Linked DNA regions of Homo sapiens: region 1 is linked to region 2. The links come from fine-mapping of genetic effects on gene expression. Tissue or cell type: blood mononuclear cells. Region 2 holds a variant in brackets; the other region holds the start of a gene. All regions are shown on one strand. Distances are from middle to middle. Region 1 holds the start of SMU1 (SMU1 DNA replication regulator and spliceosomal factor). Region 2 overlaps SMU1 (SMU1 DNA replication regulator and spliceosomal factor).

Region 1 (2,916 bases), 22 kb after region 2:
GGGAGGCGGTGCTTGCAGTGAGCGGAGATCGCGCCACTGCATTCCAGCCTGGGTGACAGAGTGAGACTCCGTCTCAAAAAAAAAAAAGGGAACTGATTGCTGCTACCTGCAGTAGTCTTTTTCTCTCATGGCCCCTTTATGAGGTATGCAGGTATCCAGACTTAGACCCCTGTTATTCTGCTATGATACTATCTTCCTTAGCACATGTCCGTTGACTTCCATTTTACACTCCCAAAATAAGTCATCTCTCTCCTCAAACAGCTCACATTTGACATAGCCAAAATCAAATTCCCTACCTTCAAACAGAAATGAATACATAAAGAGCTAGAAGCTTTGAAGATAGTCTGGGATTTGAATCAAAGTTATGTGACCTTGGACAAGTAGGTTAACATCATTTCAGTATTTGCTGAATGCATAAACCTCCCTTCCTCCTATGAAAAGTCTCCAAAAAAGGTCCTCTCCCTCCCTTACACTCAGACACAATTTTTATGTCTGTTAATTTAATTATTATTAAGTGTTGGCAAGGACAGGTGGAGGATGGAGTTCTGGAAAAGCACACTAAGGTCTTCTTTAGTCACTAATTCTCATCCCCTATTCCTTGAAAATTTTTCTTTCTAGCCCAGTCTCCAGTCTGTCTCTCCCCAGACAACCCAAAATTCCGTGCCAGATCGGGCCTGATAGTTGTTCATTCATTCCAAAAGCTAGTTGTTCATTCATTCCAAAAGCAATTAACTCTTCCTCTAAGGTATGCTAGACACTGAGACCACAAGGAAAAGGAGCTCCTAGGCACCGACAAAGGCTAGTTTGGGGTGAGGTTATCAAACAGTGACAATACTGAGTGATAAACGCTAGGCAGAGAAAAGCAAAGGGGCCGTATAAGCAGAGACAACGAATCACATTGCATAAGCTGGACAGGGAGAGAAGCAAGGCTTAAAGAGACCTATCCCCTTGCGCAGATAATTAGACTGGAGTCCAGAGTGGATCCTTAATTTGGTCAATCACAGCGCGCCAGCAGTCGGCCAAGGACAGAACTTAGGTCTGCAAGGTGTGTTTTCCCCACCCGTGCCACCTCCCTCGAGGTTTTGGGCTTCACGTCTGAGAGCTGCTACTTTCCTGTGGGCCCACCTCCGAGGTAGCGAGATCCAAGATGCTTCTTTGGGGGCAAGGAAATGGCCCTCCACTCCCTGGCCTCTCGGATGCCTTCTCCCGAGTACCCTCCGCCCCACACCCTTAACCTCCAGGCCCCCGGCAAGGCGCGAACATCCCCACCGCAGGACTCACTCCGAAGATTCGATTTCGATCGACATAGCCGTATCTCTCCGGGAGCAGGCCCCAGCTCTCCCTCAAGGCCAGTCGCGCAACACACCAACGACACCTCCGGCGGACACCTAACGTCACTTCCGCTTGGGTCGGCGTCTGGCTCCCGCTCTGGAGATAGAGTGAACGAAGAGTAGGGGCGAGGTTCGCGTAGGGGCGGAGCCCTCAGGGGCTGTCAGAGGGCGGAGTTTATGCCCCTGCCCCAGAGAAATACGCATCAGGAGGAAGACTGTTTAAAAGCAGGCCGGAGCCGGGTGCGGTGGCTCACGCTTGTAATCCCAACACTTTGGAAGGCCGAGGCGGGCGATCACCTGAGGTCGTGAGTTCGAGACCAGCCTGACCAACATGGAGAAACCCCCGTCTCTACTAAAAATACAAAATTAGCCGGGCGTAGTGGCGCATGCCTGTAATCCCTACTCGGGAGCCTGAGGCAGGAGAATCGCTTGAACCCAGGAGGCGGAGGTTGCGGTGAGCCGAGATCGCGCCATTGCACCCCAGCATGGAAAACAAGAGCGCAACTCCGTCTCAAAAAAAAAAAAAAAAAAAAAAGAAAGATAGAAAAGAAAAAGAAAAAAAGCACCGGGCGCCATACAGCTCACAAATGTACTGAAAAAGAAAAGCGCTGGGGCGGAGCGCGGTGGCTCGCGCCTGTACTCCCAGCGCGCGAGTTCGAGACCAGCCTGGGCAACATGGTGAAGCCCCGTCTCTACTAAAAATACAAAAAATTAGCCGGGCGTGGTGGCGGGGGCGCCTGTAATCTCAGCTACTCGGGAGTCTGTGGCAGGAGAATCGTTTCACCTCTGGAGGTGGATGCGGTGAGCCGAGATCACACCATTGCACTCCAGCCTGGGCAAGGAGAGCAAAATTCCGTCTCAAAAGAAGAAAAGAAAAGTAGTGGTGATAAGATTGTAGTAAGAAAAGCAAAGAAAAGAAAGAAGAAAAGAAAGAAAAGAAAAGAAAGAAAAGAAAGAGCACTGGTTTGGAAAGATTGCTTTTTTTTTGAGACGGAATCTCGCACTGTCGCCCGGGCTGAAGAGCACAATGGCGCGATCTCGGCTCACTGCAAACTCTGCCTCCCGGGTTCAGGAGATTCTCTTGCCTCAGCCTCCGGAGTAGCTGGGATTACAGGTTTCTTGCCATCACGCCAGGCTAATTTTTTGTATTTTTAGTAGAGATGGGATTTCACTATGTTGGTCAGGCTGTTCTCGAACTCCTGACCTCGTGATCCGCCCGCCTCGGTCTCCCAAAGTGCTGGGATTACAGGCGTGAGTCACTGCGCCCAGCCAATGTTGCTTTCGTTTGATGTAATTAGTTGATTAGATTTAAGATGAGGCTGAATATGCAATACCTGATGGGATATTAATACATTCAAAACCAACATAACACTAGCCAAAATTTATAGGAAGAGTTAATTGAGGATTTTGGTTGGTTGGTTGGTTTTGCGTTTTTTTGAATCAAGGACTCGCTTTGTTGCCCATGCTGGAGTGCAGTGTCTCGATCGTGGCACACTGCAGCCTCGACCCCTCCAGCTCAAGCAATCCTCCCACCTCAGCCACCCAAAGTGCTGGGATTACTGGCATGAGCCACCACGCCCTGTCA
Region 2 (2,916 bases):
CAGAGGACCAACTGTAATAGAGTAAGCATTCATCATGTATTTGTTGATTTATTGGCAAAGCCAAAGTCACAAACTAAAACTTAAAAACTTTTAAAAATCTATGATCTTTTCTCATACATTTTTCCTTAGCCAATAGAGCTCTCTCTCTTTAAAATTAGTTGTTTGTCAACACTGCTACTGTCATAAACAACCAGAAAGCTACCCTTGTCTGGATATCAAAACCAAACAGGGGGTCGGCCATGGTGGCTCACGCCTGTAATGTCAGCACTTTGGGAAGCCAAGGCGGGTGGATCACTTGAGGCCAGGAGTTCAAGACCAGCCTGGGCAATATAGTGCGATCTTGTCTCTATGTAAAATAATTAAAATAAAATACAAACAAACAAAACAAAAACCGCTTTTCTTTTCTTTTTTTTTTTTTTTAAAGAGATGAGATCTCGCTATTTTGCCCTATTGCCTCTGCTGGCGTTAAACTCCTGAGTTCAAGCGATCCTCTCACTTCAGCCTTCTGAGTACGGGACTACAGGCAGGTGCCAATAAGCCTGGCTCAAATAGAGGCTTTTTAGCTTGAGACTCTATCCTGAGATTTTGATGTGGTAGGTCTAGGGTGAGGCATAGGCATTTTTTAAAAAGCTACAAATGATTCCAATGTACAGTTTATACTGACAATGACTGAACAGAAGTCACAATGTTAGCACACACACATGAGGAACTTTGAAGTGGAAGCTACTCTTGGCCACTTGCATTACTTTTCCCGGTCTATCTTTTCACCTTATCCTTCTGGGTTCTATGAACTGAAAGGGTTAAATCAGGTAGCACAGAAATCTGAGATGTGCTTAGAGAAGGGATGGATCAAACATTAAATAGCATTGTCCTGATACCACTCAATTCATCAGGTACAAAGTCTCTAAGGCATGGACTCTGCTGTGTTTCCTCTGTGCCTTCCATGGAGCTTAGCAGAAAGCAGATGTTGAATAAATACCCATAAACAGGAGAAAACAGTTGCCCTGGTGTCAACACTGTTATTGCCTGCCCTAATCTCCTCTGAAGCCCAGTTGCTTAGAAGAAAAAATGAACATTTCAGGAATTAAGAACGCTAAGGCTTCCAGTGTTTTCCATTCAAAAGGTCAGTGACACGCTTTGCCCCACTCACTGCAGAACTAAGGGGGAAAGACCACAAAATAAGGAACCTTAGATAAGCCATCTTCCAGTGGCATTTACAAGTTGTGAGGCCCATATGCATAGCATGAGAGCAAATCCCATGACTGAAGTACTAACAGCTCTGTGTGATTTCCCCATACATCCCAAGGGAGCATACATCTCCTGCCTTCGGGTTTCCAGTTCGATTTCCAATCATGAACAGCAATTTCAGACGGTGGTCTGACATATATACATATATATATATACATACATTTATTGATTGACTGAGACAGGTTCTTGCTCTGTTGCCCAGGCTGAAGTACAGTGGTGAGAAAATTGCTCAATGCAGCCTCAAACTCCTGGGTTCGAGTGATCCTTTCACCTCAGCCTCCCAAGTAGCTAGGAATACAGGTATACGCCACCACCCCTGGCTGTCTGAATTTTAGATACTTAAATATGTATCTAAAATATCTAGATATTTGTATTAAAATGTTTTATTAAAATGTCTAGATCTTCTGCCACAAAGTACTCACTCATATAAGACAATTCAAAAAGATTAGGTCC[G/A]GAATGTAAATAGTGTCTCAAAGATCTCTAATAATTTTCTATTTGGGTTTCTCATATCTTTTCTAGGAAATGAGAACCTCTCTTCAAATAACTAAATCTTTAAAGGTACTGAAGATCCATTACTTTCAGCAAATTACTTATTAAATAACTATCTAGGAGAAGGCTTAGTTTTACTCAACACCTCTCCTATTCCTCTATAAATGCTACTAGGAAGGCCCTAAATCTGGGGACCAGGAGTGCAGTGAGGCTGTGCAACAAAAAAGAGATCTATTTATTAGGCCACTGAGACTTTCGTGAATTTGACTGTTAGCAGGTGGACCATACCTATGGCAAAACAGATTTAACCACCATGTGTATCTGTGAATGGGGGATGGCTTAAGTTTAGGACTCTTCACCCTTCCTCTTTTCCTACACATGATAAAGTTTGTTTGGATTGAAAAGGTTTGAGATTGGGGTCCCAAGGCCAATGGGAATTACCCACAGAATACTGTTGTTGTCTCAGACTCACCTCAATTACAGCTAAAATAGCCAGGAAAGAGGTTTACTACAGCACAATCATTCCCATTATCACCACTGAAAACTCCTCAAAGGACAAAGATGGGGTAGACATCCCAAAATAAACTGATAGCAAATACTTAACCTTTACAGTGCCATCAGAGGATGCACTAATAATGTAATGTCCATCTTGTGTAAATGTTGCTTCGTTAACAAAGGAGGAATGGCCACGAAATTCCTTCAGGGTTTTCCCAGATTTTAAACCATGAATTCTACCAAATGAAAGTAAATGAAAAGAACAATAAATATTTAATATCTTATGGTTGTGACCAACGATTGAATGCATTTTAGATAAATTACAGAAGCTCATGTTATAATATTAAGTGAAGAGGGCTATGTGATTGTGTATACGGTGTAATTTTCACTATATCAAACAATCAAACAAAAGCTTTGCAAAGAAAGAGGCTGGAAGAAAATATGCCAGTAATACCACAAGCTTCTGTTCAGGGACAGACCTCTAAAAAACAAGTTAGCAGGAGATTGAGATCAGTGGGTCTCAGCTGGGTCCTTTAGAGTATAACAGACCCTCTAAAGTGATTATGATGCAGGTAGGTCCATAAGACCATACTCTGAGAAACATGAAGCACTGCTACCCCCTTTCAAATGTCTCTTCTGGGTAAAAACTCAAATGACACAACAACAAGTGTCAGTTGTACTTTG

Evidence for each region.
Region 1: it holds the start of SMU1, and the variant in region 2 is fine-mapped to the expression of SMU1 in blood mononuclear cells (TOPMed, PIP above 0.99).

Annotation. Positions count from the first base shown.
Region 1 is chr9:33,075,302-33,078,217 of GRCh38, forward strand. SMU1 (SMU1 DNA replication regulator and spliceosomal factor) reads right to left here and starts at 1,373. Exons shown (of 12, transcript NM_018225.3): 1 at 1,282-1,373. The coding sequence starts at 1,307. RefSeq lists enhancers at 1,235-1,384, 1,555-1,754.
Region 2 is chr9:33,053,772-33,056,687 of GRCh38, forward strand. It overlaps SMU1 (SMU1 DNA replication regulator and spliceosomal factor), which reads right to left. Exons shown (of 12, transcript NM_018225.3): 9 at 2,342-2,468. Among named protein-coding and RNA genes, the nearest start is that of SMU1, 21 kb to the right of the region's middle. The variant G/A (reference allele first, on the strand shown) is at 1,702.